Linked DNA regions of Homo sapiens. The protein of the gene in region 2 purifies or fractionates together with the protein of the main gene of each other region. This does not show direct contact. Each region holds a gene or a part of one and is shown on either strand. Other genes may lie near its edges.

Region 1 (3,500 bases), on a different chromosome or scaffold from region 2:
TCAACTCTGGCCTCGGGGCTGGCCCGGCCGCTAAGAGGCGTGCGCTGGGGCAGGCTAGCCCTTCAGGGAAGCGAAGGCTCTTCCGTGCAGAGCAGAGTGGCCCAGCTGTGTGAACCAGAACGTGTCATGAGGTGGGACCAGGGTTCACGGAGACAGGGTGCTGTCCCTGGCTAACTGGGGAGGCTGCACCGCATGCCTGTAGTGACGCCAGCGCATTAAAGCCTCTGTGGAGTCCTGCAGCAAAGGAAGTGCTCGGCACTGTGCAGTGCAGATCCCCAAATCTCTCGGCTCTCAGGAGGGTCCCCTTCCCTGAGCACCTGCATTCTCACATTCCCCCGGGGCTGGTCCTCATGAGCTGCCCGTGGCTCTAGGAGGGAACCCCAGCTCCTGCCTCTGAGCTCCAGGTGCCCATCACCTAACGCCTGTCTCTGATCATGTGTGTTTAAATATGGAGTCTGTTTTCCCTTAGACGTTTGAAATATTAATCTTTTATCTATATTTCATTAGCTATTTTCTAACATAAATACAACACAAGCTAGTATCCAAAGTATGTGTGTTATATTTCAATAAAGTTTACGTAAAACAGTGAACATCCCCACGAAGCGTCAAGAGCCGGCTGCCTTCCCAGTGTCCCGCAGCCCGCGCCGCCTTGTGGCCCACACTGCCTTGCAGCCCGAGACCTCAGGAGGCCCAGCCCTCAGGTCCGCGCCGCGCAGGGGCACACGTTTCTTTCAAGACTCGCACGAAGCCAATTCTGTGTGTTTGGCACACCCCACACTCCGGAACCTCCTCGCCTCACTCTGCCTGTATCTAGACTGAGCCCATCCTGCTCCCTGCAGCTCAGTCTGTGTTGGGCCTGGGAGGAAGGAGACCCCTGACCACAGGCCCTGTCTCCAGCTGGGTGCTGGGGCTGTCAGCTCCGCCCTCTCTTCTCTCAGAAGCCCAGCCTGACTCTGTGGCTGCCCTAGCCACACAGGCCCCACCCTCCAGGAGTTTAAAATTTAGTTAGGGATGAATTCAGATTACTGAGCCAAGATCCCCAATGGTAAAAAGATAGCAAACGGTAGGCACAAAATGAATGGCAGGGCCTAGGGCAGAGGAAAGCTTCTAATTCTCTAGAAGGTTCTCTAACCCTTAGTGGGTGGTCCCAGGACAGTCTTTTGTCTGGGCCCTCCTGGTAGATGCTCTGCGCCCCCATCTCTGCAGGGGCTGCTTTCCAGGATTGTCCCAACCTGAAAACCCTTTCCCTGGCAGCCTTCGACACACCCCTACCTGTGTGCCTCTTCCCCAGCCAGCCCCATCCACCCAGCCAGCCCCATCCACCCAGCCCCTTCTCCCCAGAGCTCCACCCCGTGCCCCTCTGTGCCCTGGACACTTGCCTGCGGCGTCCACTGGAAGGCCCTAGGAGACCTGAGGTCTGATCTGAGCATTCCCAGCAGGAGGACCCAGGACAATGAGGCACCTGAGTGACGCTGAACTCTCAGGAGGGGCAGTCGGTGCCTCAGGAGGAGGGGGAGCCCACACCTGCCTATCTTGTTTGTGACCCAAACTCCTGGAGGAACAGGTCTGCTTCCATCTCTACTTCCCCGTGGCTGCTGCTACCCTGTAGGCGCCTTACTTACCGTGCTGCACTGCCCGGGAGGGTCTGAGATGCGAGGCCCACAGTGATGGTCTGAGCCAGAAGCAGCACCCTGGGGCAGGCAATTCAGGCCCATGCTCTCAAGTGTGTGCTGGCCTTGAGGGGCCCCGGGTCTGCCCTCTTTGGCTGCAGGGGAGAGGATGCAGGTGTCCCATGACTGCCCATGGGCTGCCTGCTGGAAAGCGGAGCTGAAGACCCAGGGCTGCTGAAGTCCTGGGCCCATCCTGGCAGGCTCACAGCCAGGCACCAACCCCTGTAACTTGCAGTCCTCACTGGCTTCCTGTCTGCCTCCCTAGGGTGCTGGGAGAATCAAGGGCAGGTGCTCTGTGGGCTGTAAAATCTGCAACCCACAGGGGAAAGTCATTTTCTCCCTCTGATTCCCCAACTCTCAGGCAACAGGGGGTCTAAATTTCACACCGCATGTCTCACAAAAGCCAGCTCCCTTTCCCCTGATGTGTGGCTGCCAGTGCTCAGCGCAGAAGGGGCCAGCCTGGCAGCACCACCACAAAAAGCAGCCCCAGCTCTGTGCAGAGGAAGACCAGCAGGTCACGTGCAGACCCCAGACCCCACGTCTGGATTCTTTCACCTCTCTCAAGTTAAATGTTAACGCATCAAGTTAGAAGTACCCTGTGGAAACCAACTGCAGAAAAGAACCTGTCAAACATGAAGCAGCGAGGCAAATCATCAACAACCAGGGTATACATGCAGGCAAGAAAGCCGGCTCAGCTGATCAAACGACGCCGGTCCTGTGTCCCCAGACACAAGCAGAGCCGACCGTGTCCTCCTGACCAGACCCAAGGGCCCAGCACTGCTTGGGACCTCAGCAGTGGCCCTTCCCCACACAGCACCACCCGCGTGCCAGCAGAGCTTTCTGGAACTTTCCAATAACCTGCTGCTGCTTCTCAACGCCCCAGGAAACCCAGGCCAGGGTCCACAGCTACACCACTGGTGTCAACCTGCACACACCGCACAGTTCAGGCTGGGCAGGTTCCAATGCCACCAGGACCGCCAATGGACCACCTCTTCAGAGGGCATGTGCCATCCTCCCAGCGCTCACCTGAGTGCCCGCGCCAGACTGCAAGGCACCCACCATGAGGAGCAGGCTGTGGCGGTGACCAAGGCTTCCTGGCACGCTGTACCTGTCTCACCACGGCAGGTGGCATGCACTGTCCCAGCCCAGCCACTGTGCCCCAGCTCCTTCCACCTGAGCTCCGTGGACAAGGGCACAGCCGTACCCGCCTTGAGCTGCTGTGAGGTCATGCATTGGCCTGGCGAGTCCTAGGTGCCCATGGAGGCCACTGGCTGGCCCATCCTCAGAGGCCCTTCTCAAGCCAGGGGGGACGCTTGAGAGCTGGGGTGGGGCTCTGAGGGCTCCTCTCTGCAGACCTCAGTTTCCACTCGTCAGACCTCTGAGAACAAGATGCTTCACACACTCTCATTGCAGTCACCATTCACGTCAGAACTAAGGACTGTCTGCGTGCGGTGCCTCCTGGGACTACACCTGTAATCCCAACACTTTAGGAGGCAGAGGCGGGAGGATCACTTGAGCCCAGGAGTTCGAGACCAGCCTGGCCAACATGGTGAAACCCCGTCTCTACTAAAAATATAAAAATTAGCCAGGCATGGTGGTGCATGCCTGTAATCCCAGCTACTCAGGAGGCTGAGGCACGAGAATCGCTTGAACCTGGGAGGCGGAGGTTGCAGTGAGCCGAGATCACGCCACTGCACCCCAGCCTCGGCGACAGAGTGAGACTCTGTCTCAAAAAAAACAAAAAAACAAAAAACCAAAAAAACTAAGGACCTATGGCCAAGGACTCCGAGCTCATGGCACCGTGCAGCCCAGGCCAAGAGGTACACGAGT
Region 2 (3,932 bases):
CCTGACATGCGTGTGTTTTGTGTTTTTCTGGATAGGCATGCATTCCTATGGAGGAGGTAAGCAGGGGGAAGGGAGCTCACATTCATCAGACACCTAGTATGTGTAGGAACCTTCTGCATCCCTGGAAGGATGGATGACCCCACATGTGAAACCTCTCGTGTGGTTCTTTTTGGAATTAACTACCATTGCTGAAAAGGGCCTACATAAAATATCAAATTTTAACATGCTGGAATTTTTCTTTATTTTTTTTCTCCTTCAAACATTTGTAGCTCTTTATATGTGGTATTTCCTCTGTGTCAGAAGGGAAAGAGGGTGCCCTTTGGGGAAGTTCTCTTCCAGACTCCTAGAAGAGAATCTGATTTACCTTAAATGCACAAACAAGGCCTTGCCATGTCACTGGCCAACCGCAGACAAACTACTTCAGTCACAGAAATAATTTGGACACTTTTGCTTTTTAAGGAAAAGATGATTTCCCTGGATTTTTTTCCTGTGAGGACGAGGCATTCCAAAACCCCAGCGGGGTCAGGCACAGTTCGCCAACTTTATGTTTTGGGGGGCAGCGCATTTGCTTCCCGAAGTGAGTTGCGAAACCGTTTTCTAGCGCGCACGGGGCTTTCATCTCTTCCGTGCATGCGAACGGCTTTCCGAGATGCCCCCTTTATGGGCTTGGCCATCGCTACTTTTGTTACAAATTAACGTCTGGGACTCGGACTGCTGCCAATAGGAAACTCCCGCGATTCGCTGCCTAGTTCGCCGCCCTCACAAGACTGGACTCTGCACAGGCCATCCATGCCCGCTGGTGCACCTCGCTCTCTCGCACGCTTAACCCGCGGGGACGCCCCCGACCTCCCACCTCAGCCCTCGCCACAGTTAGTCCCGCCCTTCCGCGCAGACTCCGTGGAGTCCTGTCACGCTCTCCGCGCGCTGCGGCAGCCGGGAGATTGTGAAGGGCACCTCCGGCAGCCAATTAACACCCGCATACTGGGCGGGACCACGCTTGGGCAGGCGGAGGGGGTCGACCGAAGGCGGGGACTTTTGAGTGACAAGGATGATGGCCAACCGTCGGAGGCCCTTCTACTGCGCCCCGCCCCTGAGCCGGCCGCCCAGCCCCCAGTGGGGTTCCCGGCGCGGGGAATGTCCCGGGTGGAGCTGGCTGAGTCGCGCGCTCTGCTCCACCCGACGGGGCTGTGTGTGCTGGGCCTGGCTCGCGGCGAACCGAGATGGCAGAGCAGTCGGACGAGGCCGTGAAGTACTACACCCTAGAGGAGATTCAGAAGCACAACCACAGCAAGAGCACCTGGCTGATCCTGCACCACAAGGTGTACGATTTGACCAAATTTCTGGAAGAGGTGAGTTGGGGATGAGCGGCTTGGGGCGCAGGGAGCGTGGGCCGGGTTTGGGGGTTCACTGGCATGACCTGTCTTTCGCGGCCCGGAGTCCGCATACCTACGCCTAGGCGCGCCCCCCGAGTTCGCTCACCTGCGCGTGTACGCCTGGGCGCGCTTCCGAGTCCGCACACCTGCGCGTGCAAGCCTGGGCGCCCCCCACCGCCCCAAGTCCGCACACCTGCGCGCTCACACCTGGGAGCGCTCCCCGAGTCCGCACACCTGCTAGTGTACACCTGGGCGCTCTCCTCGAGTCCGCACACCTGCGCGTGCACACCTGGGGAGCGCTCCCTGAGTCCGCACACCTGCGCGTGTACACCTGGGAGCGCTCCCCGAATCCGTACACCTGCGCGTGCACACCTGGGAGCGCCCTGCGCGGCGGCATCCTCGCTAGGTGGTGCTGGAGCAGCCTTCCGGGGATAGCGCGCAGCCATGCGGGGGATTTAAATGATCCCTTTCTCCCTTGAGTTTGAATAGAAGGGTGTCCTTCCAGGACCGGCGGCATTCCCGCAGTGGCCGGCTGGAGACCACCCACCCCGAGAGCTGCGGATCCCGCCGGAGGGGACCCCAAGTGCGGAGGTCGGGTGTGGTCCGGGCCTGCGCTTCCCGCGGCAGCCACTGGCCGACCTTGCGGTCCACACCCACTCGCGTTCGCGTTCACCTGGAAGAGGCTCGGTGTTAATTAACCTTTTCCAGTCACGCCTTGGCAGCCAGGTGCCGTGCTTGACTCCTGAGACCGCGGTGTGTGGCTGGAGCAAGAACACAGAGGCCAGGCAGAGCAGCGGACGTTCTGCGTGGGACTCGCCCCTAACAGCTTTGGAAGGTGTAATAGGAAACGTTGGTTAACTTGAAGACATTCCTTTGATAAGATTCTTTGCATTCGGTTATAATTTTTGCCGCACACGCTAAGGGGCGCTTTTGGTGATTGTCTTAGATCCTCTGGAAGTGTTTTACTACTTTTGGGGGAGTCTCAATCATAAATCTTAACGCATGCTCACGCCCCCTCCCAATAATGAGAAGGTTTAGTGATGGGAATTTTTTACATAGTCGGGGAGCAGGGGACAAAAATAGATGCCTGGTCTGAGCTGGATCACAGTTTATATCAGAGGACTTTGTTTTTGCAGAAAATGTTAAAATCAAAAGGCCTGTTTTAAAAAATGAGGCTGGGCCAAGCACGGTGGCTCACACATGTAATCCCAGCACTTTGGGAGGCTGAGGCGGGTGGATCACTTGAGTCTAGGAGTTCGAGACCAGCTTGACCAACATGGCGAAACCCCATCTCTAACCAAAATACCAAAATTAGCCAGGCCTGGCGGGGCACGCCTGTAGTCCCAGCTACTCGGGAGGCTGAGACAGGAGAATCCCTTAAACCTGGGAGGCAGAGGTTGCAGTGAGCCGAAATCGCACCACTTTGCTCCAGCCTGGGGGACAGAGTGAGACTCTGTCTCTAAATAAATAAATAAAATTAAATAATAAGGCTGGAGTTGATGTTTATTGGTAAGGTATTTCACTCTGGAGCAGTGCCCGAAGATAAAGTCATGTTACCATTTAGTAAGGAGGGGTTTATGTTGGGAAATCAGAGCTGACCTGTCCTCTCCCTCCTGCCCGGCTGCAGATCTTGTCATATAACATCAATTCTCATTAACTCTAAATGTGGAATTTTAAGATACAGTGTGTGCTTTGTCTATTTGTGCTTATAGAAGAAGTAGCATAAGAGAATATTAGGATATTTTATATTATGAAGCATTTTCTTCTTTTCTTGTCTTCTCCTAAAGCGAGTTTTTTCAACCCTGGCACTGTTGACATTTTGGGCCAGCCGATCTTTGTTGTGGCGTCTGTCCTGGGCATTGTAGGATATTGAGCCACCTCCCTGAGTTCTACCCACTAGATGACCGGTACCACCACCTCCCCTATTTTTTTTTTTTTTTTTTTTTGAGACAGAGTTTTGCTCTTGTGGCCCAGGCTGGAGTGCAATGGTGTGATCTCGACTCACTGCAACCTCTGCCTCCTGGGTTCAACCAATTCTCCTGCCTCAGCCTCCCAAGTAGCTGGGATTACAGGCGCACACCATCACGCCCAGCTAATTTTTGTATTTTTAATAGAGACAGGGTTTCAACATGTTGGCCAAGTTGGTCTCGAACTGCTGATCTCAGGTGATCCACCCACCTTAGCCTCCCAAAGTGCTGGGATTACAGGCGTGAGCCACTGCTCCCAGCCCTACCTCCCCTATTTATAGCAACCCAAAATGTCTCCAGATATTGCCAGAGGTCCCCTAGGGCACATAATCTCTCCAACTTGAGAATTACTAAGGTTACTGTGCATGACTTTAGGGGTAGATTTTCAGAGACGATAATAGGGAAGTGAAGATTATTGTTAAAATGTACTCAAAACTATTTACTTTCACATTTCATTCCTGTGAGTCAGGAAAGGAGGGATTGTGCAAAAAATTTTCCGAGAAAAACTGAGAGATGAGAGCAAGCTCTTGAGTGGGTAAATTAGCTGAAAACAAATTTCTTTATTTTTTCTTACTCAAAGTTTTTGTGGAGA
Region 3 (3,500 bases), on a different chromosome or scaffold from region 2:
TTTCCTTTTCCATCTTCTAGAGGCTGCCTGCAGGCCTTGGCTTATGACCCCTCCTGCCATCTTTAAAACCAGCAGCTTTGGCTGGGCCCAGTGGCTCATGCCTATAATCCCAGCACTTTGAGAAGCCGAGGCAGGAGGATCTCCTTAATCCAGGAGTTTGAGACCAGCCTGGGCCACAAAGTGAGACCACGTCTCTACAAAAAATAGACAAACATTAGCCAGGTGTGGTGGTGCATGCCTGTAGTCCTAGCTACCTGGGAGGCGGAGGTGGGAGGGTCACGTGAGCCTGAGGAAGTGGAGGCTACAGTGAGCTGAGATCGCGTCAACACACTCCAGCCTGGCTGACAGAATGAGATCCTGTCTCAAAAAAAACAAAAAACAAAAAACGAAAACAAACAAAAACCCCCCAAAAACGCAAACCAGCTTCTTCTTGCTTCTGTGCTTCTGTTGTCACATCTCCTACCTCTGACACTGATCCTCCTGCCTTCCTTTTATAGGATCCTTGTGATCACATTGGGACCACCTTTAAAATCAGGACAATCTCCCCATGCCAAAATTACTAATTTAATCACATCTACAAAGTCCCTTCTACAACATATTCACAGTTTCCGGGGATTCGAATGTGGATGTTTCTGGGGGGTGGCCCACTGGTAACCAGTGTTATAAGTTTCTTATAAATCCTTCCAGATATATTTTATCTATAAATAAATAAATGCAAGTCCATAGACTTCCCCCACCCACTTTTTATACAAATGGCATCATTCCATATCAGTGCTCAGAGTTCTGTCTTCCTCTTTTTCTTTTCTTTTTAAGGCTACACAGAACCTATTAAATGGAAATACCCTAATTTATTTCACCTTTTTCCTGTCAGAGGACTTTTAAGCTCTTTCCAATGCTTTGCTTTATAATCCTTTGTGTTATAATGCTGCAATGAATAACCTTGTTTGTAGGATGATATTCAATTTAAAAACTCATTTTTCAGGCCAGGCATGATGGTTCATGCCTGAAATCTTGGCCCTTTGGGAGGCCGAGCCGGAAGGATCACTTGAGCTAGCCCAGGCAACACATAGAGACCCCATCTTTACAAAAAATATTGTAAGATTAGTGGGACATGGTGGCCTGCACCTATTTTGTCCCAGCTATTCGGGAGGTTGAGGCGGGAGGATTACTTGAGCCAGGGGGTGGAGGCTGCAGTGAACCATGATCACAGCCCTCACTGAACTCCAGCCTGGGCAACAGAGTGAGAACCCATCTCTAAATAAATAAATAAATAAATAAATAAATAAATAAATAAATAAATAATCTTGTTTTTCCGAATTTTGGGGGCACTATTTAAGATATTTTGAAACCTCACAGAGCTTTTTTGGGGAACTTGTTGCCTTGGAGATTAGCCTGTCCTGTCCCGCCCCCATGATCTGTACTTCCTCTTTCTCCCTCCTGGCTTCCTTAATTAAGCCTTGTGTGTACTTGCCAGCCCATGTCCATCACGCTCTGCCTTCAATTCTAGATGCTGTGCTGTGAATACACTTAAGTGGAGGCCGCATGCTTCCCAGGAGGGTGTGTATTTTCAGTGTTGTGTCTCATGATAGTATGAAAGGCTCTGGAGAGAATCACAGGCTTCCACAAACAGGCAAGGAGAAAAATGTTCCACAGACATGTTTCAGGGAAAACAGGCTTCCCAATCCTAGGCCGTGCTGGTCCATAATTGGATCAGGCTGACTCTCCTTCCCCTACACTGCTGGTGTAGACAGGGACAAGAATGAGAAGTCAGAGACACAGAGAAGCTGTGATTTGCTTGAGGTCACTAAAGTACTTAATGGCAGAGTTCAGACCTGACCTGAGGGGCAACAAAAGACACCCCCCTCAAATCCATGGGGAGCAGAGTCTAACTGAATCAGATCCCAGATTTCCTGGGGCTCTCACGGTGCCAGGTGTGTACACTGAGCTAGGATGGGTTTCCCAGGGTTCTGTGTGGTCACACAACTCAACAATACAGACCAGAAAGCAGTGGCAAGTAGGCTGAATTTGGCTGGTGGGTGTTTTCTGTTTGGCCTGCACAGTGTTTCTTTTAACGTTTTATTATAGGAAATTCAAACATGCAGAAGGAATTGTACCATCAACAACACACACCCATCACTCTGCTCCAACAATGATCAACTCAGGCCTATCTTGCTTCATCCTATACCCTCCCTCGCTTGCTTCCTTCCCACCCTCAGATATGTGGAAGCAAATCCAAAGATACCATTCCATTTCAAATATTTCATTTTGTATCTCTATAATATGGGAATTTGGGGGGTTTCAAGACAGGATTTCACTTTGTTGCCCAGGCTGGAGTACAGTGGTGTGATCATGGCTCACTGCAGCCTCCACCTCCCAGGCTCAAGGGATCCTCCCACCTCAGCCTCCCAAGTAACTAGAGTTAAAGGTGTGCACCACCACACCTAGCTATTTTTTTTTTATTTTTTGTAGAGATGGGGGTCCCATTACGTTGTTCAGGCTGGCCTCAAACTCCTGGGCTCAAGTGATCCTTCTGCCTCAGCCTCCCAAAGTGCTGGGATTATAGATGTGAGCCACTGTGCCCAGCCAGGAGCTTTTACATAATCCTTTTTGACAAATTTTCCCCCAAGAAATTAGAAAGTTTTATAGAAAAAAAAAATCCGGACTTCTGTCTTCTCTTAAAAATTTGGAAGCTCTGCCAATACTGGGCCCAGATGGCAATCACTGCTTAGCACGGAGTAGATGTTGACTTTTCAGATGAGGGGTGTGACATCTACTTTGCCACAGTCCCCACCACTCCCCCACCTGGCCATCTCACCCATACACATCACCTGCCTGGCTCCTTTAGGCATTTAATTTGTGTAGGAAATTGACCTAAAGGAGATATTAGAGAAGACATTAAAAACTTGAAGAATGTGAAAATCAGCCAGGAGATAGAACTGTGCTTTAATGCGGGTTATAGAACGACATTGGATATGAAGCATTTTGGGAATAAACTTTGAAAATTGGAAGTACCAGTTTGTGAATTTTGCTGAGAGAGATGAAGGTGGGGGGTGGGTGACAGTGGTGAAGCATCTCCTATGTGCCAGTCTCTTTTACCACAGGCTGTTTCTCACAAAATCATCAATCATATGCAGCAGGTGAAACACCTTCCTATTTTACAGATGAGGAAACTGAGGCACAGAGAGGTGAAATAGGCTTCCCAAGGTCACTCAGGTCATGAGCAGCAGAGCTAGGATTCAGACCTGGAGTTGGCCTGACTCTAAAACGATGCATGCCTCACCATGGCCCATCACTCCTTTAAAGAGCACCAGAAGAGAGAATTTGACAAAGTGGTTGCCCGTGGGGCCTGGGATGGGTGGGGAAACCACGCTAGGCCTCGGGGCTGCTGAGGGCCTGAGGGAAGGAATGGGGAGCCCGGGCACAGAAATAGAGGAGGGGGCTGCCCCACGGCTACAGAAGGCATCTGGGAAGACGCTCTGCTGAAGGTGGCCAGGAGGGCA
Region 4 (3,500 bases), on a different chromosome or scaffold from region 2:
CCGTGGGGGATGAGCCATTGTTCCTTGCCCCCGCCAGCTTCTGACGCACTCCTTGGCCTGTGGTCACATCACTCTAATTGCTGTCTCCCTGGTCATATCACCTTAGCTTTCTCATCTGTTTAATCTCCCTTCACTTCCCTCTTATTAGGACCCTTGGGATTACATTTAGGAGCTACATGGATAATCCAATATTGTCTCCCCATTTCAAGAGCCTTTATCTTTTTTTGTTTTTTGTTTTTTTTTTTGACGGAGTCTTGCTTTGTTGCCCAGGCTGGAGTGCAGTGGCGCATCTCTGCTCACTGCAAGCTCCGCCTCCTGGGTTCATGCCATTCTCCTGCCTCAGCCTCCCCTGTAGCTGGGACTACTGGCTCCCACGACCACACCCGGCTAATTTTTTGTATTTTTTTTTTTTAGTAGAGATGGGGTTTCACCATGTTAGCCAGGATGGTCTTGATCTCCTGACCTCATGATCCGCCCACCTCGGTCTCCGAAAGTGCTGGGATTTCAGGCATGAGCCACCGCACCTGGCCTTCAAGAGCCTTTATCTTAATCATTTCTGCAAAGTCATTGCCACATAAAGTAACATTGATAGCTTCCAGAGACTAGAACATAGACATCTTGGGGGGCCATTACTGAGCCTATTACATACTGTGTGACCTAGGGCAAGTCACTTTACCTCTCTGAGCCGTAGGTCTTTTATCTGCAATTGCCTCTCAATTGCACAGGGAAGGCTTACATGGGGTCCAAAAAGCAAGACTTCTGGAAGTTGCAAAGCTCCAAATATAAACAAGAGTGATATTAATAGTTGAGTACCTTCCCCTCTCACCTGTCCTCTCTTTCTGTGGATCACCTGTGAACTGGGCTGATCTCACTTCTGTTTGCTTCTGTGGACCTAGAAATGATCACTGCCCCCAGTGAATATGGTGAAGAAGCTGGTGATGGCCCAGAAGCGGGGAGAGACACGAGCCCTTTGCCTGGGTGTAACCATGGTGGTGTGTGCCGTCATCACCTACTACATCCTGGTCACGACTGTGCTGCCCCTCTACCAGAAAAGGTACTGAGCTCTCCCGGCCTGCCCACCCCCCAACCCTCTCCTAAGGGTCTGGCATCTGTAAGGAACCCTGGCCTTCTACTCACCCCTCTCCTTGACCCTCATTCAAGGCAGCAGGGTCAAGACGATGCTCATTCTTAGGTTCTAGGGTTCAAGTGCAGGGAAGGTAGGATGAACTGAGCCCCACTGGTCTGAGATTCTAGGACCTGGTGGTAACAGACACATGATCTAGGACGTGGTGGTAACAGACACATGATGCCCTTCTCAGAAGAAATAGCAAAGAATCAGAGCAAAGGTTCCAGTGCAAGTTTGATCCCAGGAGGAATCAGAGAATTGCAGATGTTTACAGCTCAGCTGCATAATTCTCTCCCCTCTGAAGCCTCCCTGTCAGGTGGGCATCCAGCCTCCTGATGAATACCTCAAGAGACGGGGAGCTCCTTGCCTCACTGAACATACATTTCATGTTTGAGGTTTTCTGATGTGTCTGCATTGAGCCAGCATCTGCTTCCCTGAAGTTCTGCTCAGGAATCTCAGAGAATGGTCCATGCCCTTGCTCCATGACATATCAACCACTTGAGATTTTAAGGAAAAGCTGTGAATTCCTAATTCGTGTTCTATTTGGAACAAAGACACTCAGTTCCCCCAGCCTGTCCTTAGGATAAGTCTCAGACCTGTGCTCTGGGCACGTTCCAGCAGCTGACAGCCCCCTTCTGACTGGCAATGGGTCTCCCACAGGATACTTGGGAGTTGAAGCACAACTGATTTACTAATATGTTGATGAACCTGTTAGCCTCTCCCGGGCCTGCTGCAGCCTCACTCTTCACAACGCTGAAGCGATTCCAGGCTGGACTCTTAATCTGGTGAAGCACCATCTAGAGACTGTCCCCACCATCTTTCCCATCCTGGCTCAACTCAAACCCCTTCTACATCTGCTCCTTTTAGGGGAAAGAACACAGCTCTCCAACCCACTCAGACCTAGCTTCAGGTCCTGCAAGGTCTCAGCAAAGTCACTTGACCTTTCTGAGTTTCTCTTCTGCCTCTGCAAAATGAAGACGATATGGATAAGAAAGTCTCAGGTTTGGCTGCTCGTCAGAATCACATCAGGGAGCTTTGAAAAAACACCCAGGGCCTGGGCCAAACCACCCAAGAAGTTCTGATTCACTTGCTCTGGGGTGTAGCTTGGACACGGGAATCTTTTTAGAAGCTCCCCAGGTTGTTGCAAGAGTAGCCAAGGTTGAGAACCAGTCATATAGATAATGTCTAAGACCCCATCCAGCTTCTACAATTCCTCCCTGTGTCCGGGGACTGTGGGGTCATGTGCCTTTATTGCTGGATGCTGAAGACAAGATGAGGATCCCAGTCCTGGATCCCTCTAGAGGCTCCCAGGGGATAATGGGTTCAAATGGGTGTTCTGTGTGTCACCCAGTTCTGAGATGTGTATGTGTGCATGTGTGTGGTCTCCTCAGCGTGTGGACCCAGGAATCCAAGTGCCACCTGATTGAGACCAACATCAGGGACCAGGAGGAGCTGAAGGGCAAGAAGGTGCCCCAGTACCCATGCCTGTGGGTCAACGTGTCAGCTGCCGGCAGGTGGGCTGTGCTGTACCACACGGAGGACACTCGGGACCAGAACCAGCAGGTACTGAACTGGAGGGATGGGGACACATCCCTTTATCCCTGTCAGGTGTGTGAGCCTGTTCCTAACTGTCCCTGTCCCCGAGGCTGAGAAAGATCAACCCACTTGACCAGGTCTCACAGCTGGAATGAGACTGAGCCAGCCCTAGCTCTTCTGTGTTGGAGTCACACAGACCTGGGTTTGAATCTGCCGCTAACTGGCTGTGTAAACATAGGCAGGCCACTTAGCCTCTCACCTCCTCAGTTTCCACCCTTGTAAAGTGGAATGCTAATGCTGCACCTTGAAGAGCTGTTATCAAGTCAGAGACGCTGTATATAAAGTGCCACGCTTGATGCTGAGTGGATAGTGGGCACTCAAACAAAAGCAGTGATTAGTGTTAGTACTTTCATTCTACAACCTCAGTCAAATGAGGGACCAGGCCCAGGGCCAGATCCTCAAAGTGGAATCCCGGTGACTCCCCAGGAAACCAGGGACTCAGGGCTGGAGTAACCTCCATAAACAAACATTTAGATGGTTTTTCCATCCTTGCATCCCAACATCCCACCCTCCCCCTCCAAAACACAAAACTCACCACCATATCCTTTCCTAAAGCGATCAGTTGGCCCATATTCTGTCTCTCTTCCTTCCTTCTTTCTTTCCTTCTTTTTTCCCTTTCTTCCCTCCTTCTTTCTTTTCTTTTTTTTCCCCTCCCTCCTTCCCTCCCTCTCTCCCTCCCTTCCTTCCTTCCTTCCTTCCTTCCTTGTTTCCTTCTTTCCTCCTCTCATTTATTTATTCAACAGCCATTGAGCACCTCCTGTGTCAAGCCTGTAGGACT

Evidence for each region.
Region 1: the proteins of CYB5A (region 2) and LRPAP1 fractionate together in Homo sapiens (co-fractionation; one large-scale study listed by BioGRID). This does not show direct contact.
Region 3: the proteins of CYB5A (region 2) and LGALS9 purify together in Homo sapiens (co-immunoprecipitation; one large-scale study listed by IntAct). This does not show direct contact.
Region 4: the proteins of CYB5A (region 2) and KCNMB1 fractionate together in Homo sapiens (co-fractionation; one large-scale study listed by BioGRID). This does not show direct contact.

Annotation. Positions count from the first base shown.
Region 1 is NC_000004.12:3,525,923-3,529,422, forward strand, and holds part of LRPAP1 (alpha-2-macroglobulin receptor-associated protein precursor), read right to left. Parts: intron 1-3,500. UniProt on the Homo sapiens protein: Molecular chaperone for LDL receptor-related proteins that may regulate their ligand binding activity along the secretory pathway.
Region 2 is NC_000018.10:74,289,164-74,293,095, reverse strand, and holds the start of CYB5A (cytochrome b5), read left to right. Parts: upstream 1-1,132; 5' UTR 1,133-1,220; coding exon 1,221-1,349; intron 1,350-3,932.
Region 3 is NC_000017.11:27,634,188-27,637,687, forward strand, and holds part of LGALS9 (galectin-9), read left to right. Parts: intron 1-3,500. UniProt on the Homo sapiens protein: Binds galactosides. Has high affinity for the Forssman pentasaccharide. Ligand for HAVCR2/TIM3. Binding to HAVCR2 induces T-helper type 1 lymphocyte (Th1) death.
Region 4 is NC_000005.10:170,382,868-170,386,367, reverse strand, and holds part of KCNMB1 (calcium-activated potassium channel subunit beta-1), read left to right. Parts: intron 1-896; 5' UTR 897-920; coding exon 921-1,054; intron 1,055-2,517; coding exon 2,518-2,689; intron 2,690-3,500. UniProt on the Homo sapiens protein: Regulatory subunit of the calcium activated potassium KCNMA1 (maxiK) channel. Modulates the calcium sensitivity and gating kinetics of KCNMA1, thereby contributing to KCNMA1 channel diversity.